7 linked regions of the Homo sapiens genome follow. The protein of the gene in region 6 purifies or fractionates together with the protein of the main gene of each other region. This does not show direct contact. Each region holds a gene or a part of one and is shown on either strand. Other genes may lie near its edges.

What was found.
Region 1: the proteins of ECD (region 6) and ZNHIT2 purify together in Homo sapiens (affinity purification with mass spectrometry; 4 studies listed by BioGRID and IntAct, with this or other methods). This does not show direct contact.
Region 2: the proteins of ECD (region 6) and PACC1 purify together in Homo sapiens (co-immunoprecipitation; one large-scale study listed by IntAct). This does not show direct contact.
Region 3: the proteins of ECD (region 6) and CD226 purify together in Homo sapiens (co-immunoprecipitation; one large-scale study listed by IntAct). This does not show direct contact.
Region 4: the proteins of ECD (region 6) and HDAC11 purify together in Homo sapiens (co-immunoprecipitation; one large-scale study listed by IntAct). This does not show direct contact.
Region 5: the proteins of ECD (region 6) and PIP5K1A purify together in Homo sapiens (co-immunoprecipitation; one large-scale study listed by IntAct). This does not show direct contact.
Region 7: the proteins of ECD (region 6) and SIGLECL1 purify together in Homo sapiens (co-immunoprecipitation; one large-scale study listed by IntAct). This does not show direct contact.

The regions. Positions count from the first base shown.
Region 1 is NC_000011.10:65,115,903-65,119,152, forward strand, and holds ZNHIT2 (zinc finger HIT domain-containing protein 2), read right to left. Parts: upstream 1,800-3,250; 5' UTR 1,752-1,799; coding exon 540-1,751; 3' UTR 501-539; downstream 1-500. Other genes in the region: delta(14)-sterol reductase TM7SF2, read left to right, coding at 1-151. UniProt on the Homo sapiens protein: May act as a bridging factor mediating the interaction between the R2TP/Prefoldin-like (R2TP/PFDL) complex and U5 small nuclear ribonucleoprotein (U5 snRNP).
Region 2 is NC_000001.11:212,387,387-212,390,886, forward strand, and holds part of PACC1 (proton-activated chloride channel), read right to left. Parts: intron 1-3,500. UniProt on the Homo sapiens protein: Chloride channel gated by pH that facilitates the entry of chloride ions into cells upon exposure to extracellular acidic pH. Involved in acidosis-induced cell death by mediating chloride influx and subsequent cell swelling.
Region 3 is NC_000018.10:69,945,074-69,949,147, forward strand, and holds the start of CD226 (CD226 antigen isoform a precursor), read right to left. Parts: upstream 2,801-4,074; 5' UTR 2,334-2,800; coding exon 2,288-2,333; intron 1,997-2,287; coding exon 1,661-1,996; intron 1-1,660.
Region 4 is NC_000003.12:13,479,111-13,483,105, reverse strand, and holds the start of HDAC11 (histone deacetylase 11), read right to left. Parts: upstream 2,801-3,995; 5' UTR 2,759-2,800; coding exon 2,757-2,758; exon of another isoform or gene 2,660-2,756; intron 1,861-2,659; coding exon 1,712-1,860; intron 1-1,711. UniProt on the Homo sapiens protein: Responsible for the deacetylation of lysine residues on the N-terminal part of the core histones (H2A, H2B, H3 and H4).
Region 5 is NC_000001.11:151,229,552-151,233,051, forward strand, and holds part of PIP5K1A (phosphatidylinositol 4-phosphate 5-kinase type-1 alpha), read left to right. Parts: intron 1-2,119; coding exon 2,120-2,250; intron 2,251-2,696; coding exon 2,697-2,814; intron 2,815-2,999; coding exon 3,000-3,152; intron 3,153-3,500. UniProt on the Homo sapiens protein: Catalyzes the phosphorylation of phosphatidylinositol 4-phosphate (PtdIns(4)P/PI4P) to form phosphatidylinositol 4,5-bisphosphate (PtdIns(4,5)P2/PIP2), a lipid second messenger that regulates several cellular processes such as signal transduction, vesicle trafficking, actin cytoskeleton dynamics, cell adhesion, and cell motility.
Region 6 is NC_000010.11:73,161,509-73,165,008, forward strand, and holds part of ECD (protein ecdysoneless homolog), read right to left. Parts: intron 2,443-3,500; 5' UTR 2,430-2,442; coding exon 2,225-2,429; intron 1-2,224. UniProt on the Homo sapiens protein: Regulator of p53/TP53 stability and function. Inhibits MDM2-mediated degradation of p53/TP53 possibly by cooperating in part with TXNIP. May be involved transcriptional regulation. In vitro has intrinsic transactivation activity enhanced by EP300.
Region 7 is NC_000019.10:51,264,580-51,268,079, forward strand, and holds part of SIGLECL1 (SIGLEC family-like protein 1), read left to right. Parts: intron 1-788; coding exon 789-1,070; intron 1,071-1,197; coding exon 1,198-1,303; intron 1,304-2,793; coding exon 2,794-2,950; intron 2,951-3,500.

The sequences.
Region 1 (3,250 bases), on a different chromosome or scaffold from region 6:
CCTGCTGCCCTACTTCTACCTCCTCTACTTCACCGCGCTGCTGGTGCACCGTGAGGCCCGGGATGAGCGGCAGTGCCTGCAGAAGTACGGCCTGGCCTGGCAGGAGTACTGCCGGCGTGTGCCTTACCGCATCATGCCCTACATCTACTGAAGCGGCTCCACCACCCCAGGTGGGGGCATGTGCCCACTCATCCACCAGCACACCCAGGACCAGGAGCCTCGACACACTTGGGACTCAAGGGCTTGCACCCCACCCAGCCCTGAGGATGAACAACCTCAGAGAAGAGGTGGTTTAGAGCAAGGAAAAAAATGAAACCAGTGACCAAAATCGGAGATGCTCTTCCTCCTTTGGATAAACACTGGGAACCCTTGGTGCACTTCTCTCCCCTAGGACTGGCTGGGTCAGCACTGATCAGGGAGAAGCTGAGCAGTGGCTTGTGGGCCCAGGAATCTGGGGTCTGGTGGGACAATAGCTATCCCTCAGAAACAAGCAACAGGGCTGACCAGTCACAGCTTTATTAATGACCAGGGTAACCCGTTCAGCTAGGGAGCTCCTCAATGAGAGTTCTTGGGGCAGGTGGCACGGGGCCTCCCCAAAGCCGCTCCAGCTCCCCAGTGAGGGCGGCCACCTCCTCGGCTACCACAGCATGGGCTTGGTGAGCCCTGGCGCAGTCTAGGGCCAGGGGTGTGAGGGCCGCCTCATTTTCGTTGGTCCAGGCCAGGAGGAACTGGCACTTTTTCCGGGCCCGGTAAAGATGATCTCGCTCTTCTCTAGCCACGGCCTGTTTCCGGGCACGGCCCAGGGTCTGTGCCAGGTCCCCCAGTGCTGCCAGCGTGTAGCCTTTCTGGTTGGTCGGGCCCTCGCCCAGCAGGATGCGGGCGACCTCGTGCATAGCCCCTCGTGTGCCCAGGGGCCCCGGCGGGTGCTCGCCTGCTTCCAGCACGTGGGCTGCCGCCTGCAGGGCTTCTTCCGCAGAGGCGAAGACTTGCTGGGCACCCAGGGCTCCGGAAACGCCGAGCAGTGTGGCACAGAAGTCAGAGAGCAGCGCGTCGTCACCGCCGTGATACAGGGCGAGAGTATGCGCGTAGGCGAACAGCACATTGGGCAGCTGGAAGCGCACGAGCGGCGAGACTGGGCCGCGGCTCAGGCTGACTATCGCGGGGATGCGGGTGGGTACGACGGGCGTGCAGGCCCCCGGGACATCTCCAAGAACCCGCTCGGCGGCCGCGGGCTCCGCGGCGGAGGCATCTTTCACAGAATCCGGCGGGGTCCTCGCAGGGGCGAGCTCCAGCTCCGCGGCGTCACTACCCGGGGCATTATCCAGCTCCTCCAGAAGCTGCGGTCCGGCTCCGCGGTTCCACCACCACGGCCGCCATGGAGGCAGCAGCCGCCCGGCCTCACCGCGGCTCAGCAGCCGCTCGAAGGCAGCTTTTTCGCCCGGCGCCAGCCGCTCCCAGAGTCCCGATAGGCCGCCGGGCGCCGGGCCGGAGCTGAGGCCTGCTTCCCCAGGCTCGTCCTCGGTCTCGCGTTGCTGACGCAGCCGGCGTAGGGCGCTTGCTAGGCGGCTGGGAGGAGCGCTGCAACCGCGGAGCTCTCCCAGCACCTGGTCACGGTAGAAGTTTTCTGCGCAGGTGCCATGCGTCCGGTAGCAGCGCAGCGAGCAGTAGGGCGCATTACAGCGAGGGCAGGTGTAACGCGCTGGCTGGACCTCCCCCGCCGGGCAGAAGCCACAGGGCCCGGCCGGCTCCATGGCAACTGGCACCGCGATCTACCTGCGAACGCACGCCGGTGGTAGTTCGAAACTTCCGGGGCTTCTTCGATTACTTCCGGTTCGCAGCGCGGCCGACGGCGCGCTGTGTTTTCGCAAAGCTTCCGAGGATTCTCGGCAATTTCCGCCCACGCCCGAAAGCCAAGCCCCACCCCTTTCCCTAGTAGGGCGAGAGCAGGCCCAGAAGCCGGGCGTCAGGTACGAGCCCCGCCCTATGCGATGACGCAAGGAGCGAAAAAATGGGTCTGGCGAGCGCTTCGCCGGTGCCACGTCTCCCCCTAGTGGTCACACCAAAACGTGGCCCGATCATCTAAAGAGAAAACCCTCTTTTTAGCACTACAATGTGCTGTGGCATAAATCCATCTTTACTAGGCACCTACTCTGGGCCACTAATTGTGCCAAGCCTACGGGAGGCGATGCATCCCTGCGCTGGACACAGACAAATAAAATGCACTAGGGGACACAGACAAATAAAAGGACAGTTAGGGCCAGGTACGGTGGGTCACGCCGGTAATCCCAGCATTTTGGGAGGCCGAGGCGGGCAGATGACCTGAGGTCAGGAGTTTGAGACCAGCCTGACCAACATGGAGAAACCCCGTCTCTACTAAGAATACAAAATTAGCCGGGCGTGGGGGACGGGTGCTTGTAGTCCCAGCTACTCCTGAGGCTGAGGCAGGGGAATCGCTTGAACCCGGGAGGTGGAGGCTGCAGTTAGCCGAGATCGCGCCACCGCTCTCCAGCCTGCGAGCCTGGGCCACAGAGAGAAACTCCACCTCAAAAAGATAAATAGAAAGCAGCATTTAAGAAATATCTGAGCTCCTATGATTTTTTTCCTCCAAAACTGCCTCTTCTTTTCATTAAGTATCTTCTCATTAAATACCACTATTCATCCATCTTATTAAGTGCAGGCCCCATTCTAGGTGCCAAGAACACAATGCACATCAAAGGGAGCCGGGGGTCCCTGTTCTAATAGAGCTCACTCTTGTGGTGGAGTGGGGGGTGTGATGAACCAAACTGTGAGTGTTCTTTGCATCCCTGCTACTACTGGTGGTCTAAGCTTCCTGACCCCTCATGTGGATGACAACACATTAAGTGTTTTTCCTAACTTTCTTGCCAGCCCTCCAGAAAAACCTGCCAGAGAAATTAGATCACAAGTCAGATGAGATCCATCTGTTACTCAAAACCCTTCTGCGACCCTCCATTGCACTTGGACTCAAACCCAAACTCCTCTCTATGGCTGACAAGGCCTTGCAGGATCTGCCCGCCCCCAGCCCTAGACATCACCTCTTCCCCATCTTCACACAGTCCTCTAGGCTTGAAATATTCCCCTACCTGATCACTTGACTGGTTCATCTCAGGTCTCACTCACGTCATTTAAACAGGACCTCTCGGCTGGGCACAGCGGCTGACACCTGTAATCTCAGCACTTTGGGAGGCCAAGGTGGGCGGATCACTTGAGCCCAGTTCAAGACCAGCCTGGG
Region 2 (3,500 bases), on a different chromosome or scaffold from region 6:
TAAAAGAAAAAGCAAAAAACAAACAAAAAGAACAGAAAAAAGGAGTTTACTCTCTAGAGGGATAGGCAGTTACAATCCAACAAGTGAGCTGGCCCCAACCTACCTCTCTGGCCTTATCCCTCACTGCTCCACTTCCCCAGTTCTCCCAGCTCTAGCTCCACCTCTACTCATCGACTTTCTGTTCTTCTGGAGTGCCCTTCTCAACCCGGGATTCCCTCACACTTACCATTCCCTCTGCTTGATTTTCTTTTCTTCCACAGCTGATGCTTCACTCATCCTAAGCCCCGAAAGCTTTTTGCTTGGCATCTGGCTTCCAACAGTGACAGAGTAGCTTGGTCACGCCATCCTTCCATGGAAGCATTTTAATTTAGAAAGACATTTTCTTGGCCAGGCGCAGTGGCTCAAGCCTGTAATCCCAGCACTTTGGGAGGCCGAGGCAGGAGGATCACCTGAGGTCGGGAGTTCGAGACCAGCCTGACCAACATGGTGAAACCCCTGTCTCTACTAAAAATACAAAATTAGCTGGGCGTGGTGGCGCATGCCTGTAATCCCAGCTACTCAAGAGGCTGAGGCAGGAGAATTGCTTGAACCCAGGAGGCGGAGGTTGCAGTGAGCCGAGATTACTCCATTGCACTCCAGCCTGGGCAACAAGAGCGAAACTCCATCTCAAAAAAAAAAAAAAAAGAAAAAAGAAAGAAAGACATTTTCTTGAGGAAGCCTCTCCTGACCCCTAACCTTTATTTGGGCACCTCTTCCTCAGTGTTCCCAGGGAGCCCTGTACGTCCCCTACTTCATCACTCTGCAATGTCATGTCTATACATCTTTTATCCTCCTAGGCTGTGAGTTCCATGAGGGCAGGGATGGGGCCAGTCTTATCCCTAACTGAATCCTTAGCCCTTCATGCTATGCCTGGAACATTCTGCATTTACATGGTGACTGATTGAACACGTCCTGATGCTATTGGTACAACACAACTCTGTCTCCCCTACCTCCCTCACAAAATCCTGAGGCTAGAAGCTAGATTAATCTCTGTTATGGACGAAACTGTATCCCCCACCCTCAAATTCAGGTTGAAGCCCTAACCCTCAATGTGAGTATATTTAGAGACAGGGACTTCAAGGATATAATTAAGGTTAAATGTGGCCATAAGGATGAGGCCTGATCCAATAGGACCAGAATCCTTATAAGAGGAGGAGACACTAGGAGCACATGCACACAGGAAAAAAGGCCATGTGAGGACACAATGAGAAGGCAGCCATCTGCAAGCCAAGGAGAAAGGCCTCACCAGAATTCAATCCTGCTGGCACCTTGATATTGGATTCTCGCTTCCAGAACTGTGAGAAATAAATTTCTGTTGTTTATGCCACTCAACTGTGGCATTTTGTTACAGCAGTCTGAGCTGACTAAGATACTCCCACAGGGCTCCCTGTGCCCTCTCTGCTCCTCAGCTGAAAATGGAGCTCCCTGAGAAGAAGTCCTATTTCCTCCACAGCCCAGCTGAGCACAAGGCTGAGAACAAGGGAAGCATCTGAACGTAAGCCCCAAAAGGTATCTGCTTGGCATCTGGCTTCCAACAGTGACAGAGTAGCAGTGTCACATCACCCTTCCACAGAAAACAATTATAAACTTTGGACAACATATTTTAAATTATTTGAAGGCACTGGGAGAATGATCAAAAGCAGGTAGAAATTGAAAGAGAGGCTACCCTTGAAAGAGAAGAACTGTACTTGGTGAGATTTATACATCTGTAGCTTTTTGCCTAAGAATACATGCCAATCCCTATAAGGCATGGTTCAGAGTGACAGGGACAAAGTTCAGGGCTGGAAGAGCAGCCAGAAAGTTAAGACAAAACCATGAAAGGGAGGGAGCCACACAGGGGGTGAAACTCCCAAATCTGCAACTAAATATATGTTCAGATCCTTGGCTGGAGAACCCAGGGGGGGCCAGCAAAAAGTAACAACTGGAAATTGAAAGAACTGCATGGAGATTTCAACTACGGCTAATGCAGGGGAGATAGGAGTTTAGAGCTTAAATCTTGCCATATTAACAATATGCCAAGAAAAAAAAATACCCTTCTGAAGATCATAACAGAATCCAGAATCTCTATATCATTCATAATGTCCAGTGTTCAATCAAAAATCACTAGACATGCTAAGAAACAAGAAAATGTGACCTGTACTCAAGAAAAAAGCAATCTATAGAAACCAACACCAAGATGACCCAGTGTTGCAATTTAGCAGAGAGAAAATTTACAGCACTTAAAGGAAAATATCTGAATAAGGAATAAAGACAAGATCAATAGAGAAACAGAAACTAATAACAATGGCCAAATATATAGAATTTCAGTTTTGCAGGATGAAAAAGCATTGTGGAGATGGATGGTGGTGATGGTTGCACAGCAATATGAAAGTGCTTAATATCACTGAACTCTACATTTTAATGAGTAAGATGATGAGTTTTACATTACGTGTATCTAACCACTGTAAAAATGTTTCATAAAATTTAAAAAAACAGATGGAAATTCCAGATCTGACAAGAAATAAATGAAATAAAAAGTTCACTGTATAGGCTTAATAGCAAAAGATGGCAGAGAAAGAGTTTGTGAACTCAAAGTTAAATCAACAGAAACTATCCAATTTGAAGAAAATATTGAAGGAAAAAAAAAACCAAATGGAGCCCGGAAAATTGTTACAGTATCTAGCAGTGTAGTGACATGTAACTGGAGACAGAAAATGGGTCACAAAAAATATCTGAGGCCGGGGGTGTGGTGGTTCACCCCTGTAATCCCAGCACTTTGGGAGGCTGAGGCAGGCGGATCACAAGGTCAAGAGATCGAAACCATCCTGGCCAATGTGGTGAAACCCCGTCTCTACTAAAAATACAAAAATGAGCTGGGCGTGGTGGTGCATGCCTATAATCCCAGCTACTCAGGAGGCTGAGGCAGGAGAATCGCTTGAACCCGGGAGGCGGAGGTTGCAGTGAGTTGAGATCACGCCATTGCACTCCAGCCTAGGAAACAAGAGCAAAACTCCATCTCAAAAAGAAAAAAAAAAAAAAAAAAGACTATTGATATTGGGTTCTAAGATGGCTGAATAGGAACAGCTCCAGTCTACAGCTCCCAGCGAGAGAGATGCAGAAGATGGGTGATTTCTGCATTTCCAACTGAGGTACTGGGTTCGTATCACTGGGGCTTGTCATACAGTGGGTGCAGGACAGTGGGTGCAGCGCACCGAGTGTGAGCTGAAGCAGGGTGAGGCATCGCCTCACCCGGGAAGCAGAAAGGGTCAGGGAATTCCCTTTCATAGCCAAGCAAAGCTGTGACAGATGGCACCTGGAAAATCGGGCCACTCCCACCCTAATACCGTGCTTTTCCAATGGTCTTAGCAAATGGCACACCAGGAGATTATATCCCGCGCCTGGCTCAGAGGGTCCCACACCCACGGAGCCTCGCTCATTGCTAGCACAGCAGTCTGAGATCCAACTGCAAGGCGGCAGTGAGG
Region 3 (4,074 bases), on a different chromosome or scaffold from region 6:
CTTCTCTGTACAGCCATGAGTATAATTTGAGAGACACCACACAAGAAACACACAGTTCCAAAAATATTCCCTGCTTTAGATTGTCACTAATATCTGAAAATTTCATTATTAGTCCTTTTGGATCACAAGCATAGGAAATAATAAGATGTATCATTCTCTGACTACCATGGACCAAGTTCTTTAAATATATCGTCCCTCAGCCATTCAACAAGTAGAATGGCACTACCAACCCCATTTCCTCTTCAGGAACCTGAGATTCAGAGGGATCGAGCAACTAACACCAGGTTGATGGAAAGTGATGACTATAAACCCAAGTGTTTCCAATATACTACAACCAGTTCATGTAGTCATCACTAGAAAGACAAAACCACAATCTCTGGTAGATAAAGCAAAAAACACTCCAAGGGATCATTGGGTTCTTTCTGACACCACAGCTCACAATTTATGAAGAAAGTGTCCTCTCTAGCTAAACCTGGATGAGGTGAAAGATAGAGCCAGGGCCAAGCTTGGTGGTTCATGCCAGTAATCCTGGCACTCTGGGAGGCCGAGGCAGTTGGATCACTTGAACTCAGGAGTCCAAGACCAGCCTGGGCAACATGTTGAAACCTCATCTCTACAAAAAATACAACAATCAGCCTGGCATGGTGTATTAGTCCGTTTTCACCCTGCTGATGAAGATATTCCCAAGACTGGGCAATTTACAAAAGAAAGAGGTTTAATTGGACTTACAGCACCACATGTCTGGGGAAGCCTCACAATCAAGGTGGAAGGCAAGGAGAAGTCACGTCTTACATGGATGGCAGCAGGCAAACAGAGAGAGCTAGTGCAGGGGAACTCCTCTTTTTTAAACCATCAGATCTCATGAGACTTATGCACTATCATGAGGACAGCATGGGAAAGACTTGCCCGCACGATTCAATTACCTCCCACCAGGTCCCTCCCACAACACATGGGAATTCAAACCATATCACGTGGCGGTGCACACCTGTAGTCCCAGCTACTTGCGGGGCTGAGGTAGGAGAATCGCTTGAGCCCAGGAGCTGGAGGTTGCAGTGAGCCAAGATCATGCTACTGTACTCCAGCCTGGTGACAGAGCAAGACTCCATCAAAAAAAAAAAAAAAAAAAAAAAAAAAAGAAGGAAGAAGAAAGAAAGACAGGAAAGAAAGGAAAGAAAAGAAAGAAAGAGAGAGAGAGAAAGAAAGAAAGAGAAAAAGAAAGAAAGAAAACAAACTTAGATTTGGTACTGTAGGAAGAACCTTGAACACACAGGGGTTGATGTGGGTGCTGGAGTGTCCAGCAGAAGGGAATGGTGCTATGTCACTGTGATAAAACCCTGAAAGGATCCTGAACCCATGTGTTGCCAACATCAGTTTAATCAAGGCTCAGGTTATCATTAAGACAACAAAAAACCTGTGCTTTCTTCTACTACATTCAAATTTGAAAGGCACTTCTACTCGGACACAACAGCACAGTCAGAAAAATGAAACAGACTCCCAAGATTGCTCCTTCAAAGCAGTAACATCAAAGCATCTAGAAATGGAATTGGAGAATGCCACAGAAATACGAGAAGACATTCTATAGCTTCTACTTGGGCTTTATAGAAATAAATGTTGTAAGTGGATAAAAAGGGATTTAAAAAAAAAAAAAACTTGCCCTTACCTGACTGAACCACCTGTATCACCTTCTGCCAAGTTCCCTGTGGGTAAGTGTAAAGAGAGCAGGAATAGTAGCCAACATCATCTTCAGAGGCATTCCGAAAGAAAAGAGTCATGTTATTGGAAGCCATCGTTGAATTCAAAAAGTAAACCCTCTCAGCATAGGGCTTCCTTATGACCATGCCATGAGTAGGGCTGAAAATGGCTATGGAATCCTGCTGGGTCCCGATCTTGAACCACTCCACCTGTGTTAAGATGCCCATTGATGGATACACACATTCTAGAGACATGTTCTCGGCAAAGGGAACTGATGTATGCCAAAGCACCTCTTCACATAGAGCTGAAATATACAACATCACATTAATTGTTAGCCTTGATGATGGAAACACCAAATCAATATCTTAAGCTTTTGAAGACCTAGTGCATTGAGATCACAGTAAAGGCTGACAGTTTCTGCCTTTGTCTAAAAAGGCGTCCTGCTGATAATTGGAAAATGTAACTTTTAGTTTTTCTGAACAAGTGAGAAATTATCCTAGCCAACTAAAGAGCACTGTAAATTCTGAATATGCCACACTGTACAAACAAAAACAGGAGCAAAACTTTTAAATGAAAATATAAAGATCATCTTTACCTCTGTATACATGAAGAAGAGCCAAAAGTAAAGTAGGATAATCCATCTCTGGAAACTGTTTGAAAGGCTGGTTCTATTAAAAAAAAAAATTGCTTTTTATAATGTGACATGCAGATCCCCAGCACAATGCAGTTTCCTTCCTCTCAGATGTTATCAGTCGTGTCTTCTTTTTCTGAAGTATGAACACAGGAAAAAGGCCTTAGCTTAAAAGACAGGTTTGCTCCTTTATGAGGATGGGCAGATTTGAGTTTCTTCTCTCTCGGGGAACCAGTCGGCTTATTTTCGGGCTTTCATTTTCTACAAGGAGTCATTCATTCAACAAACATGTGCTGCATGCATTCTCTGTGCCTAACTCAGCTGTAGGCAATGAGGATACAATAATACAAAAAAAAAAAAATATTGCCATGATAGAACTTACATTCTATGTGGAGGAGGCAGAAACTAAAATAAAGATGTAAAAATATAAATAATAAGTGAAAGGTGGTGCATGCATGGAGCAGAGAAGTCCTCACTGAGAGCATAAGATGAGGCAGAGGCTGAAGTGGGCGGAGGGAGCCTACGCCCAGCGCTGACAGCCCATCCTGTGGCCTTCCTTTCACCTCTTCCTCCTTGCTGATCTCAGACATTTGCTTTGATGAGGACCAAAAAACAGATCAAAAGCCCATCAGATACAAAAGTATGCTGGCCCAGGGCATATGCAGATCTACCATTATGAGAGATTTAACTTCTGATTTTGAAATAATTATAGAGTCACAGTAAGTCACAAAGAGAGTACAGACAGGTCCCTGTCCCCAGGTTCTGTCAGGGGTCATATCTTACATAATTATAGTACAATATCAAAACAGGATTCATTTTTCAGGTTCATCATTGCTCTCTTCTTTCTCTTATAAAATACAAGTTCCAATTCTTAAGAACTTGTTAGGTACAAGTTCCAATTCTTAAGAACTTGTTAGGAACATATCAGCATGTTAGTATAAAAAGTATACCCCTACAAAAAGAGGAATTGTATAAATGCATTTGACCCTGGTAAGACTGTCAAAATAGAAGATGAGTAAAAATTGGGAAAAGTAGGAGCAGAAACCACTGAAGACAATTTTATCTAATGCCGACCCTGAACTTTGTTTGTGACTCAGTCTCAAAGTGTATCAGCAAGTGTCGACTACTCAGCATGAATATCTAATGTGGGAACTTTCTCAGGGAACATAAAATCAACAATGCAATGATAATCAGAACAAAATTGTAATGTGTACATATAATCAAGCATGGTGTCACCTTGTGTTTATATGGCATTATATTTTCTAAAAGTTTTCACATCTATGATATTATTTGTGCCTCTAGTTGTTTTGTGATGTAGTCAAAAGAGGCATCTGTTATCTCTGTTTTGTAAATAAGTCAACCCAACAATTCCTCCAAATTGTACTGAGTTATGCTGGGTCCTCTGCTTAGTCCCTTGGAAATACAATCATAAAGAGGACACATCTCTGCTCTCAGGTTATGCATAATATAGTGGGTCATATTAATTTTAAAAGCAATTTATTGTAGCAAAACATGATCATCTCTATACAAGTCATTTGCTAAGTTTTATGAAAGCCAGAGAGAACAAATCATTCTAATAGATTGTGGAAAAGGTTTTATAGAAAAAGTGGGGGGAAAACAGAGGCGTGACAATGCGGGTGTTTCAGGAAATGGTGTGACTACAGTCTAGTGGGTGGGGAAGTGACCGAAAATGAGACTGAGTCTGGACTGAAAAGTGACCTGAGTGACACACATAAAGGAACTGAAACGTA
Region 4 (3,995 bases), on a different chromosome or scaffold from region 6:
CCACCTTCCCCCCGCCCTTTTTTTTTTTTTAATTCATTTAAAGAGACAGGGTCTTGGCCAGGTGTGGTGGTTCACGCCTGTAATCCCAGCACTTTGGGAGGTTGAGGCAGGTGGATTGCTTGAGCCCAGGAGTTCAAGACCAGCCTAGACAACATAGTGAGACCGCATCTCTACAAAATATCAAAAACATGAGGTGGGAGGATCACTTAAGCCAGGGAGGTTGAGGTGGCAATGAGCCTTGATTCCGCCACTGCACTCTAGCCTGGGTGATGGGAGTGAGACCCTGTCTCAATAAATAAATAAACAAATAAATAAATGCAAGACAAGGTCTTGCTCTGTAGCCCAGGCTGGAGTGCAGTGGCACAACCATAGCTCACTGCACCCTCGAACTTCTGGGCTCAAGTGATCCTCCTGCCTCAGCATTTCAAGTAGCTAGGACTATAGGTGCATACCACCACCCCCAGCTAAGTTTTTTATTTTTATTTTGTAGAGACAGGATCTTGCTATGTTGCCCAAGCTGGTCTCAAACTCCCGGCCTCAAGTGTTCTCCTAGCCTTGGCCTCCCAGAGTGCTGGGATTACAGGCACGAGCCACTGCGCCCGGCCTCCCTCCACCTTCTGATGATATTACAGGAGGCTCAGTGTGGCATGGCCTCGCAACACCTGCCTGTGCTTTGCTCATCTTCCGTTCAAACCACTAATCAGTCTCACAGCCTGCAGGCAATAGTAACCAGCCTGGATTGAATTATACTGTTGTTTTCATTGCATTTACTTTTTTACCATGACCTATTTATGGCAAGTGAAACTGCCTTTTCCCATTTTGATGACATAATGTTTCCTTTTAAAACAAGTTTAAGTGAATTTCCCACCTAAATCAGGCCCCTTGATTACAAACCACAGTTAAAACGATATGCTCTTCGAAGCATCATTTTGCTCAAGGGGATGAGCCCTAAAGGTAGGGCGCCTGGAGCTCTGAGTTCCAAACCCAACTCCGCCTCTTGTAACTGTGTTACTTCAGCCACTAATGGGAGCTGTGTCCTTCCCTGGAAAGAGGTCACAAGCAGGCAGCCAGTGTGCCCAGTTCGGTCTACAGGTGGGCTTTTACAATCTTATAATGAGTGCCATATTAAGAAATCAGGGCCGGGTGTGGTGGCTCACGCCTGTAATTCCAGCTACTTGGGAGGCTGAGGCAGAAAAATTGTTTGAACCTGAAAGGCGGAGGTTACAGTGAGCTCCTGAGCCTCTGCTGCGATTGTGGTGCCTACCCCGAGGGCTGCTGTGAGGACTGGACTGGAATTGGGTGCACATGTTTCCTAATCATTCTAGGACACAATTTCCCCCATCTGTAATCAAGAGAGGTGCGGTGGAGGTGCTCTACCTCCTGACTCTCTGAACCTTAGGAAATGGACTCCTCCAAGCTTCACCTTCCCTGTGCCCATCAGTAATCAGCTACCTTTCCACTAGGCCTCTTGGGCAGAGGCAGGACTTAGGCCCACAGGATGGGGAGCCAGGGAGAGTCTGAGTCAGGGACATCATATCGTGATTAGGAGTCTGTGTTGGAAAAATCATTTTGGGCGGAAGCATGGGTGGAAGGCCATCCGAGGGCTGAAACTGAAGATGGGAGAGAGCCTGAGGCTTATGTTGGGGATGAGGACGGAGAGGACAGGTGGGTTGGAGGAAGCAGATGAGAGTCCAAGGGGGACCTTCCATACCTTTTAGGAAATTGATCACTTTGCCCCATTTTCCGGCATCAAAGGGATGCAGCTTCTCCAGGCCCATGAAGGTGATGTTGTAGCGCGGCGAGTACACGATTGGCCAGCGTGTCTCTGGCACATGCTGGTACAGCTGGGTTGTGTGTAGCCTACCGTGTGGAAAAAGACAGACGCACAGCTGGGGCAGCCTCGGCAGAAAGCAGCTCCCTCCCGAGCCCGCCTGGACTGACCCACCAGCCATTGCCCAGCACCACTAGCCCCTCAGCCGCAGACAAGGGCCCCTCAACAACAGCTGCTTAAACTGGCTGCCTTTCCCGGAACCCAATTCCAATCCAGTCCTCACAGCAGCCCTGGGGGTAGGCACCACAATCGCACCAGAGGCTCAGAGAGCAGACCAGGTGTGCCCAAGGTCACAGTGCAGGTCTGTGGAGAAGCAGGCGTGCACTCAGGTGTGTCTGGCTGCAAGGCCTCCGCGCATCACCTCTGCACCGTAATAAATGCCCCCACAGCTGTGTGGCACAAGGCTTCGGCTGCAAAATGTGTGGCTGTTGTGAGGACTCAGAGAATGCAACTGAGGAGCTGAGCACAGTAAGCACTCAGAAACCCAAGTCGGGACCCAACCTGAGCCAGGGCGGGGGGCGGGGATCCCCTGACCCCGCTGCGCTGCTAACCCTTCCCATCACACCCTGGCAGTCGTCACCCAGAGACAGAAATCCGCCCCAGTGGCTGCCTCCGTGGGGGCGTCCGCGTAGCCAGGGGGCTGGGCAGCGCAGACGTCAGACCCGCGCACATCGCCCGACCGCTCCGGGTCCGGGCCCAGGCCCGCGGCCGGCGCGCGTCCCTCGGGCCACCGAGCAGGGGCGCGGGGCTGGCCTGGCGCGCCGGGAGGGCCTGGAAACACCCGTCCCGAGCGTCCCTCACCCCTCACCAGCAAATCTGGGCCCTTACCTGGCGCGCCCGCCCGGCCGTCCCCGCCCTCGCCCTAGCGCGCCCGCCCACCGGGACCCCTGGGAGCCCACCCCCGCCCTCGCCCCGCGGCACTCACATCCCGGGGCCGGCCCTCCCAAAGCTGGCCGCAGCTCCGCGACCGGGCGGGGCGGGGCGGGGCGCGGGTGGGGCCAGCCCAGGACACGCCCCCGGGCTTAGCCGCGTCCTCTGGGGGCAGAGCTCTGGCCGATTTGGCCCGCCCCGCCAGTGTTGCGACACAGAGAGCCTGCCCGCAGGAAGGCCACCCCCAACGCCCATCAAGCCCGAAGTCCCGCCTCCGCAGGCAAATACCCGGTGGAATCCCGCCTGGTTCGGAAGCTCCGCCCCCTGGCGGGAGGGCCAAGCGGGTTTCACCCCGGCCTCGCGGAAGGGGCGCGACCACCGTATGTCCTGTTCCTGCGCTTCCCAAGCTGGGTAGAAACGGCGAGAGGCTGGGGGTTAGAAACGACAGGTTCCCGGCGGGCTGTGCCGGGGCTTCGCTGTGTGACCTTGGGCTGGCGTCTGGGCTCTCTGGGCCCTTGTTTCCGCGAGTTAAACGTAGGGGCGGGGGAGTTTCTCTGGCCCTGCCGCCTGTGACCTAAGGAGCCCCGTGACCTCTCCGACCCGAGCCCACCCCCGGCCCAGTCTGCGAGCAGCTCCGGGACAAGCACTCCCGGCGAAGACATGTAGGCTCTCAGAGCCTGCGTTTCCCTCTGTAGAGCAGGCCTAGTTACTGTCTTCAGGGTGCACGCGTCTCCGTCCCCGACCCGCACCCTCACCGCCGGGGTAAGCTGAGCCAGGCCCAAGCGACAGCTGGGGTTGTCCGTGGGGCTGCAACCCAGGAGGAGGCCCCAACAATAGAGCCCCAGAGGACGGAGACAATGGGCCTCTCTGTCGGCCCAGCCGTCCCCGCCATCCAAACAGAAGCAGCTGACGGAGGACTGCCGGGCTGGGATCCCTGGGCTCCGCGGGGGCGGCTGTGTGCCAGGGCGGGGCACAAGGGAAGCGCACAGACGTTTGAAGAGGGGCCCCCGTGTGCCTGCCATGATTGCATGATGGCATCTGAGCCTCACAACCTAATCCTGAGAAAGGTGCCATAATCACCCCAACTTTATCTTGAGGGAACTGAGGTTCGGGCCTGGATTAAACCCAAACTCGGCCACCCGCCAGCATAGTGGCTTTGGGCAGGTTGCTTCAGCCTTCTGGTCCTTCATGTCTGCATCTGAAAATGAAGTACTGGGCCGGGTGCGGTGGCTCACGCCTGTAATCCCAGCACTTTGGGAGGCCGAGGCGGGTGAATCACCTGAGGTCAGGAGTT
Region 5 (3,500 bases), on a different chromosome or scaffold from region 6:
GGTTTCTCCATGTTGGTCAGGCTGGTCTTGAACTCCTGACCTCAGGTAATCTGCCTGTCTCGGCCTCCCAAAGTGCTGGGATTACAGGCATGAGCCACAGCACCCGGCCATTTAGCTCTTTTTATATGTTGAACATTAAGATAAAAAGATGAGTTTCTATTATAACTGGGGAGGCAGGTACTTAAAAAAAAAAAGAAACTAATAATTTATTTTCCTTTGACCTATTTGTACATGAAAAAAACTAGTTGTAGGCTGGGCATGGTGGCTCATGCCTGTAATCCCAGCACTTTGGGAGGCCGAGGCAGGTGGATAACGAGGTCAGGAGATCGAGATCATCCTGGCTAACACGGTGAAACCCCATCTCTACTAAAAAAAAAATACAAAAAATTAGTCGGGTGTGGTGGCTTGCGCCTGTAGTCCCAGCTACTCAGGAGGCTGAGGCAGGAGAATGGTGTCAACCAGGGAGGCGGAGCTTGCAGTGAGCCAAGATCACGCCACTGCACTCCAGCCTGGGCGACAGAGCGAGACTCCGTCTCAAGAAAAAAAAAACAAAAAACTAGTTGTAATTTATTGCCCATTGAGGACCAAGTAGAAATATAAGTAATGCCTGGCCGAGGTTGGGGATGAGGCAAATGGAGCAAAGCTATCTAATCAAAGTTTCTGCAGTGATTGAAATGTGCTGTATCTGTGCTATCCAATATGGTAGCTAGTAGCCACACTTGAACTGTAAGTAGTAAGACTGAGAAAATGAAGTTTTAAATTTGAGTTAACTTAAATTTAAATAGCCATGTGTACCTAGTGGCTACTGTTATCAGACAGCAAAGATCTAGATGATGCGATACTTTCCCACGGGCTTGGAATCCTGGATTGTAAGAGTGGGGCTCTTGTATTTGTGTTTTGACCAAGTTTGATAATTCTAAGTCTGAATACTGCTCTCAGAAATAATTTGAGTCTTTCATGCTTTCTTCTTCAGTTAGGAGCTCTTTTACCACACTGTTGCCCTTTTTTTTGAGACAGTCTGGCTGTGTTACCCAGGCTGGAATGCAGTGGTGTGATCTTGGCTCACTGCAGCCTCCGCCTCCCAGCTTCAAGCAATTCTCCTGTCTCAGCCTTCTGAGTAGCTGGGACTACAGGTGCACACCACCTCATCCAGCTAATTTTTGTGTTTTTAGTAGAGACGGTTTCACCACATTGGCCAGGCTGGTCTCGAACTCTTGGCCTAAAGTGGTCTGCCCACCTCAGTCTCCCAAAGTGCTTGGATTAGAGGCGTGAGCCTCCGCCCGCGCCCACCCCACCCTGTTGGCCTTGAGACACACTAGTCAGGCCCTTCCTTAGAGGACTGAAGTTTCTGCCGCCAGGCAGTCAGATCAGAATATTGGTTAATTTTAGGGCTGGGCATGGTGGCTCATGCCCGTAATCCCAGAGCTTTGGGAGTTCTGAGGTTAGGAGCTTGAGACCAGCCTGACCAACATAGTGAAACCCCATCTGTACTAAAAATATAAAGAATAAGCAAGGTGTCGTGGTGCATGCCTGTAATCTCAGCTACTCGGGAGGCTGAGGCATGAGAATCGCTTGAACCGGGGAGGCAAAGTTTGCAGTGAGCCGAGATCATGCTGCTGTACTCCATTCCAGCCTGGGTGACAGAGTGAGACTTAGTCTCAAAAAAAAAAAAAAAAAAAAGGAATATTGGTTAATTTTAGTTACATTCGATATCAGATGAAGGAAATGTTTAGAGGGCTCCAGATACACTCTGGGGGCAGAAACCTTAGGAGTGAGAACTAAGAACGTTGTGTCAATACAATGTATCTTCCAAATACAAATATGGAACTCTTGTTTAGGCAGGCCAACAGGAGGGAGCACCTTGCCTAGCTGAGGCTGGCTCAGAGAGTCCCAGCTTTGCTACTCTGTATCCTCACTGTCCTTCCAATCTTTACTAAGCTTAATTGCAGAGTACAGCATAGGGATGGGGAAACTGGATTGTCCCAGTTTTATCTGAACTATTGCTCAGACTAAAGGATGTTTGTTTTAAAGTGTTCCTTCTAGCTTCCCCTTTCTGAATTTTTATTGTTATGATCCTACTTATACTAGGAATTTTCTTCTCATTTCTCTTGTTTCTCAGACAACCTCATCAGCCTTGAAAGGTGCCATCCAGTTAGGCATTACCCACACTGTGGGGAGCCTGAGTACCAAACCAGAGCGTGATGTCCTCATGCAAGATTTCTACGTGGTTGAGAGTATCTTCTTTCCCAGGTACAGAGTTTAATGTTCAGGAGCATGTCCTGGAAATGTGGCCTTTTCAAATCAGCCCAGGGCAGTTTTAGGGGTTCAGGTCGGACAATTTAGACATGTGTCCATTTCTTAACCTGGTTACAATCAGGGCGATGTGGGACTAGAGAGTTCGGAGAGCAGATACTGTCCTCTAGATGCTTCCATTAGCCTCTGTCCTATGGATTGACCCGTAAAAAACAACCTAATGCATTGGATAGGAGGCAGTGTGATTTCTTCTTCTTCTTATGTCTTGCTGTCCATGCTGTGCCATTGTCTCACTAACTCATCTAAGAAGGGCTGTGATTATCTTAGGAGGAATGTATTCCCCCACTCCCCCCACCATGAGGTGACTCTGAGTGTCTTCGCAAGGTAGATTCTCTGGATGATAGGGACTGGCAAGTTATGGCTACCTCTGTTTAACCCCACAGTGAAGGGAGCAACCTGACCCCTGCTCATCACTACAATGACTTTCGTTTCAAGACCTATGCACCTGTTGCCTTCCGCTACTTCCGGGAGCTATTTGGTATCCGGCCCGATGATTACTTGGTAAGCATCTGGATATCAGGACACTGTGACTCCAGTATCAGAGGGATATTCCCAAAGGAAGGCCCCTTTTCTCCACAGTCTCGCTCTGGTTTTTATTTAGAAAAGAATTGCATCTGTAGTTGATTTTTGTGTTGGGCAAGGCCCTGATGTGTCTAAATCTCTTAGTTCTTCTCTGTTTGCCCCAGTATTCCCTCTGCAGTGAGCCGCTGATTGAACTCTGTAGCTCTGGAGCTAGTGGTTCCCTATTCTATGTGTCCAGCGACGATGAGTTCATTATTAAGACAGTCCAACATAAAGAGGCGGAATTTCTGCAGAAGCTGCTTCCAGGATACTACATGGTAAGGGAGAGAGAAGCACTGTCCACCTGTGCTGCTCACTTCTGGGCAAGGCTGGGGAGGCTGTCTTCAGCAGGGTAAAACAGTGTCAGCACTTCTATCTTAAGAGTGTAGTTCAGGCCAGGCACGGTGGCTCATGCCTGTAATCCCAGGACTTTGGGAGGCCGAGGCAAGAGGATCACAAGATCAGGAGATCAAGACCATCCTGGCCAACATGGTGAAACCTCGTCTTTACTAAAAATACAAAAAATTAGCCAGGCGTGGTAGCGGGCGCCTGTAGTCCCAGCTACTCAGGAGGCTGAGACAGGAGAATGGCGTGAATCTGGGAGGCGAAGTTTGCAGTGAGCCGAG
Region 6 (3,500 bases):
ATACAAAAATCTGAACAGATCTATAACTAGTAAGGAGATTGAATCAATAATCCAAAAGCTCCTAACAAAGAAAAGCTGGCTTCACCGGGGAATTCTTCCAAACATTTAAAGAATTTGACACCAATCCTCCTCAAAATCTTCCAAAAAAATAAAAGGGAGGGAATTCCCAAATTCCTTCTGAGGCCAGCATTACCCTAATACCAAAGCCAGACAAAGACAATATGAGAAAGCTGTAGATCAATATCCCTGATGAGTATCAATGCAGAAATCCTTAACAAAATATCAGCAATCTGAATTCAACAACACATTAAATAGATTATTCACCACGACCAAGCGAGATTTATTCCTGGGATGCAAGGATGGTTCAACACACGAAAATCAATGTACAGTTAATATCCCACATTAACAGAATGAAGGTCAAACAAGTGCATTACAGAGTGTCTCAAGAGCTGCCATGGCAAACAATAGGTAGAAGAACAGCCCAACCAACTCTTCTTCTCCCCACCCCAGATCTCAAGTTTCTTCAACTAGAGAACTCCAATTAAAGTAACTATTTTTGTCTATATTAGACTTTGATTTAAATTTCATCTTGAAGCAATGGGAACTACTGAAGGATATTAAGCAGGAGAGTGACACAATCAAATTTGTGTTTTACAAACATAACCAGCAACAGTGTTAGGAACTAGAAAGACAGGAACCAGAGAGGTAAGTTAGGAGGCTGTTGTTGTTTTCCAGATGTAGAGATAAAGAGGGTCTACACTGAAGCCAAATAGATGTAGAGAAGGGGTCATATTTTAGAAGCATTCAGGATTTAGCATCTGACTGAACATGGTGAAGTGAGGAACTGATTATGATTTTGAATTACTGACTAGCTTGGATAACTGGGTGGATGGCAATGCCATTAAACAAGATAAGAAAACAGTAAAAATGGTTTTCTAGAGGATGGATAAAGGGTTGGTTTTAGATGTGCTACACCAATGTGACAGTGTTCTTGCCAATAAATATCATATGTATTTCAATGAATAAGAGTTCAATAAAATTAACAGTAAGATATGTAGCAATTGTTGCCAAAAGATAACAGATACGCACTAAACTGAGAGTATCACAGTGATGTATACTTGTGATGTATACATGGGGGGTATATCTTGTGATGGTATCACAAGATGCCAGGCTCCTGATCCCAAATAAGACCTCACATAAGTCACTGTGTAAGGAGAGACTTGGTCACCTACCCATGATTTATTTTCATAAAACTATAAGAAATGATAGAACTGTAATGTGACCAGTTCCCCACCAGACTACTTAAGGGTATATGTCTGCTGCTTAAACTTCAAAGGCCAGCTGGCAAGCCAAAGCCATCATGCCTAGCAGAGGAGCAGGTCCTGAGAACCCAAACATTGCAGGGCATAGCTGGGAACATACCAAGGAAAACAGTGTCATTGCATATACGCAGTAGGCAAAGAGCCAAAAAATTAGCTTACTAGCAACTTAAATATGGGAGGTGGGGTGGATTTCTAGAGCTGTCCTGATGCTGCCCAGGAGTGTCTTGTCTGTAAGTCCTAATAAACTCATCTACTTGCCAAGATAGACCTGTCCGAGTCATTCTTTGGTCTCTCCGCTCCCTCCTAGTTTAATCCTGGGTTTTTCTCATAACAGGACAGAGTGCCATATTTTGCCAGAGGTCAGATCTCAAGCACCAACAACACAGGGAAGCAATGAAGAAACCTCAAAATGCTTGTAAGTGGCAAATATTAGTCATAAAGCCCAATTATTTATCTTTATAAGCTGGGCAGAGCCACTCAGATCCTCACCAAAATGGCTATATGAAACAAGGCAGCCTACCAAACACATCACCAAAATAAGGAATCCTGAGTAACAGCAAAAGGAACCATGATTAAAGCCAGATGCCTGAAACTATTTAGTATAGATACTTAGATACATTATGGCATAGTGTAGTAACTAAAGTTCAAAAGAATAGCCATGAGTTTAATAATGTTTAGTATATGCTAATTCCTAAGGCAAATTTAGAAAGTTTTCATTAATATGATTTTTTTTAAAAAAAAGCTTTAAGGCTAACTGAATATAGACAAGTATTACTCATCTAAAAAGTTTAGTGTATTAATCTCTTCCTGGCAACACTGAATGAAGCGTGGACTATTACACATCACTGTTGTCAGGATAACATTAAAAGTCACACTAATCCAAACAAGTAAAAGAGCCTTACCTTTCCCAGGTTTATATTTAAGATTGAAAGGCTGATTCTGCCAGATGTAGGGGACCAGCATAGGTGCAAACCGAGTGATTATTCTCTCAATGTACTTCTGAAGAATCTCTTTATGTTTATCTGAGTCCCTTGACTCATCTGGTATCAGGAACAGGCAGTACTCCACTGTGTCTTCCATCGTAGCAAGCTTCATGGTTTCTTCCATTCTTCTTTGAAAACTATGTTTAAAGTTCCAAAATATAAACCACATAGAACAATGCAGAAGTAACATCTGAACTCTTTTAGATGGTTCTATGAACACTGTTTTCTAAAATTTAGTTAGGCCGGGCACAGTGGTTCATGCATGTAATCCTATCACTTTGGGAGGCCGAGACAGGCAGATCACTGGAGGTCAGGAGTTTGAGACCAGCCTGGCCAACATGGTGAAACCCCGTCTCTACTAAAAATACAAAATACTAAAAATACAAAAATTAGCTGGGTGTGGTGGCATGCACCTGTGATCCTAGCTACTTGGGAGGCTAAAGCAGGAGAATCACTTGAACCTAGGAGGCAGAGGTTGCAATGAGCCGAGATCATGCCACTGCACTCCAGCTTGGGTGACAGAGCAAGACTCCAACTAAAAAAAAAAATAAATAAAAATAAAAAATAAAAAAATAAAATTTAGTCACATACCATCACCATGGTTTTGGCCTTAACCATACACCACCTACAGTAATATTTATTTAATTTTTTTAAACTTTATTTATTTATTTGAGATGGAGTTTCACTCTTGTTGCCCAGGCTGGAGTGCAGCGGCATGATCACAGCTCATTGCAACCTCCACCTCTTGGGCTCAAGCCATCCTCCCACCTCAGCCTCCCAAGTAGCTGGGACCACAGGTGCATGCCACCATGCCCAGCTAACTTTTTTTGTATTTTTAGTAGAGGCAAGGTTTTGCCATATTGCCCAGGCTGGCCTAGAACTTCTGAGCTCAAGCAGTTCTTCCACCTTGGTCTCCCAAAGTGCTGGGGTTATAGGCATCTGGCCTAATATTATTTTTAATGACCCTTTACACTTAAAACTTTATCTTTAAAATTACGTTAAAAGGAAACCTTGATATAATACAGTGAATAGAAATCTAGTATCACATTCCCCAATTAGTAAGTATGTAAGAATAAAATCTTTACTTTTTATATTTTTCCTATTTTGGAAGTGAAGAATGAAATTTTTAATGTTTGCCCTTGTACTAGCAGTGGTATGTGTAATATATTTCGAGAAACACTGCACTAACACCTAC
Region 7 (3,500 bases), on a different chromosome or scaffold from region 6:
AAAACTTCAACGAAAAAGTGTGTGTCAACACTGAAGACAGATTCCTCATTATTAGAGACCTTGATGAATGTGACTGTTCCCTCCTAATCCATGATATTCATCAAATGGCCACCATGTCCTACCTGTTCTAAATAGAGCGAGGCAATTTCCAGCATTCTTACACAGAAGATGCCATAGTACATTTGGCTTCCAGTGAATGTTCCACCAAAGACCACTTGAGACCGGGAAGAAGGAAATTAAGAAAGGTGTTCTGTTTATTGAATGGGTAATACTTCACTACGCACTGAGCTGGGTGCACTGCAAATCTTGGGGCATTCATTCTTATAACGATGATAATATGAGATAGGTTCAGCAAATATCCCGATTTTCCAGGCTAGGAAACAGCAATGATAAGGGGAGTGACTTGCCCAGCAGCACCCAGACAGGAAGTGATGGAGGGAGAATTGGTCATAGAGCCTAAGAGGAACATTGCAGGTGGGAAGAAGAGAAGCAGAGTAGGAGGTCTGGCTTGGACTTCTAGCCTTGCAGGGTAGGTGAGGGATCACAGACAATGTAGAGCCTCAGGAAATTTACTTGCCACCCCTCAAGAAGGTCTAGCGATCAGGTTCAGGCCAGATGAGGACAGAAGATAGAGGGGAACTGGTCTGGGAGGCCTGAATCCTGTGGGCTTCCAGAAAGTCCTTCTGAAGCTCCTTGTGAATAGCAAGTAAAGAGAAGGCTGCATGCTGGAGAAACTGGAAGAGGGAAGCCAGGATGCCTTGCTGACTCCTGACCCTTCCTCCCCACAGTACCTGCTAAGCTGCTCAACTCCTCTTGCTCCTTGGAGAAGACACTGCAGTGCAGCTGTTCCTTCCATGGGATTCCCACACCCTCTGTGCAGTGGTGGATGGGAGGAGTCCCCGTGGGTGTGGATGGCATGGATGGCAGCCTCCAAGTGACTTCCACCATGCTTGGCCCCTGGGCTAACAGCACCATCAGCCTAACTGAAGAGCCAGAAATGGGCATGAGACTTCTCTGTGAGGGGAAGAACCAAAACGGAACCCATGCTTTGAGCATCCTACTGATGTCAAGTGAGGGTGGAGGGGGCTCGGTGACTGGGTGAGGACAATAAGCGGGATGGGGACAGTCACTGGGGCTAGAGAATGGAGCAGAGTTTTGGCTCCGATGCCAAACTTCTCACATGCTCTCTGCTTCCAGGAAAGAGTTCTTTGGCTGCCCAGGCCTTCGTGAAAGGGCTGATCCAGGGTGCTATCTATGCGGGAATTGTAATTGCGCTGCTCTTCCTCTGCCTCCTCCCTCTCATGTGAGTACTAGGGTTAATATTCACCCGCAAGCCTACTACCGGGCAGGCCCTGGCTGCAGCCCTGGCACAGAGAGAGCAAAGACAGGACCCCTCCCCTCAAGGAGCTTAGGGTCTAAAGAGGGAAAGATGTACCAAACATGGTCACCACAATCCAGGGCCATGAGGACTATACAGAACCGTAAAACTGTGTCATAAAACAGACACTTTGAACACATTTTATAAAGGAGAAGACCAAGAAGGGACTTGGCAGCCCTGGAAAAGGCAGCAGCGAGTCCCCGGGGTGCTGTCTGTGGTGGGCCTGCAAGGGTTCAGTACTCGTTAGCTTGGTGGAAAGTATTAATAGTACAGGTTGAGTATCTAATCCAAAAATCCAAAATCCGAAATGCTCCAAAGTCCAAAAGTTCTCGAGGCACCGACATAATGCCACAAGTAGAAAATTCCACACCTGACCTCATGTGATAGTTCAATGCACACAAACTTTATTTCATGCACAAAATAATTTTAAATATTATATAAAATTACCTTCAGGCCATGTGTATAAGGTATATATGAAACATAAATGAATTTTGTTTTTATACTTGGCTCCTATCCCCAAGATATGTCATTATGTATAAACAAATATTCCAAAATCTAAAAAAAAAAAAAAAAATTGAAATCTGAAACACTTCTGGCCCCAGGCATTTCAGATAAGGGATATCTAACCTTTGTATGCAGACGCCCAGAGGCATGTTTGAGGCATTTCCAGTGTCTTTGTATAATGTCAGGTGCATTGAGAGTACCAGGTAATGGCTAAAAATGAGGTTGAAAGACATCCTTGGTGTTGGTTCACAGGGTGTTAAAACTTAGCTGCATGTATTAGCTAGAAGCATGGAGTGGGAAGGGGTGAGTTGCAGGAAGTCAGGCCAGAGAGACGGGCAGGGGAGCCTGTCCAGACAGCTTGGACTGAATCCTCATTTCGGAGCCATGGAAGAGTGCTAAGCTGTGAAGGAAAGCTTGAGCTTGGGGTGGGACACAGATTAGAGAGAGTGAGAGCCAGAAGGTCAGAGGCCAGGCAGGAAGCTGGTGCAGGGGACTAAGCAGGAAATAGAAGGCCTGACCTGGGGCAAGTGATGAGGGGCAGCCAGAGAGGTGGGACTTGGGCATGGCTGGCTATGGGGAGACAAAGATGAGGAGTGAGGTGTCAGGGCAAACTGAGGAGCTATTTTCAAAGTATAATCAACAGGACTTGAAGACCAGTAACAATCTCTCTGCCAGTTGCAAGGCCCTTTCTTAGCTGACCTCATCTGAGCCCCACAGCCTAATAAGCAGGGTATCCCCCTTATTCAGAGTGTGAAACTAATTCCCAGAGAGGATGTGTGGCTTGCCCTAGGTCATACAGCAAGCTGGTACTGTTGTTGAGGCTCTAAATCAGAAGTTCTGGTCAAGATAGAGCCCATTTGGGGATTCAGGGAGATGGAGAGCCAGAACCAATCCAAGGCTTATTTCCTTAGAGTGAAACATATCAGAAAGAAGCAGGCGAAGAAAGCTGCAGCGATCAGAGCAAAAAAGAGCTCTAAAGTCAGAGCAAGCCAAGAACTTGAGATGTCTCTGAAGCCTGAGGAACCAGGAAAACCCGTAGTCGCCACATTTTCTGAGAGCCGGATATTGGTATGTACCTATTGTGTCTGGAATCTAGTCTATCGGAATACTGATAATAAGACCCACAGGGAAAGGAGCACACAGTGTTTTGAAGGTGTTATCATCCTCAGTCTTGCAGGATACCTAATGCTAGAGTGTGCTTTCAGGTCATTTTATAAATAGGAAGCTAAGGCCCAGAGAGGAGAAGGATGAAAGTTAAGAGAAACAATTTAAAGAACAATTAAAATCAATTTACACGCACACACCATTACATTGAATCCCCACTGAAAAGGCAGTTGGGGAAAATCCTAATAGCAGTTGTAGCATCAGAGTGGAAACCAAGGATTTGGCCTCTGAGTGTATGGCCGGCAGCAGTCAGCTTGGTGTAGATGCCACAGGCCAAGTCAGCCTGAAGTGGTTAGAGATTAGGCCAAGCCCAGGTTACTCCTTCATTCACCCTGTACCCCACATCTTCAGCAGGGCTTGGAAGATACAGTGTCCGAGGTTGCTATGCCTCACTGTTATTTACCGTTTATGATTCTCCAGAATCAGAATTATCCTGCTGCCCTCCTAACACCCT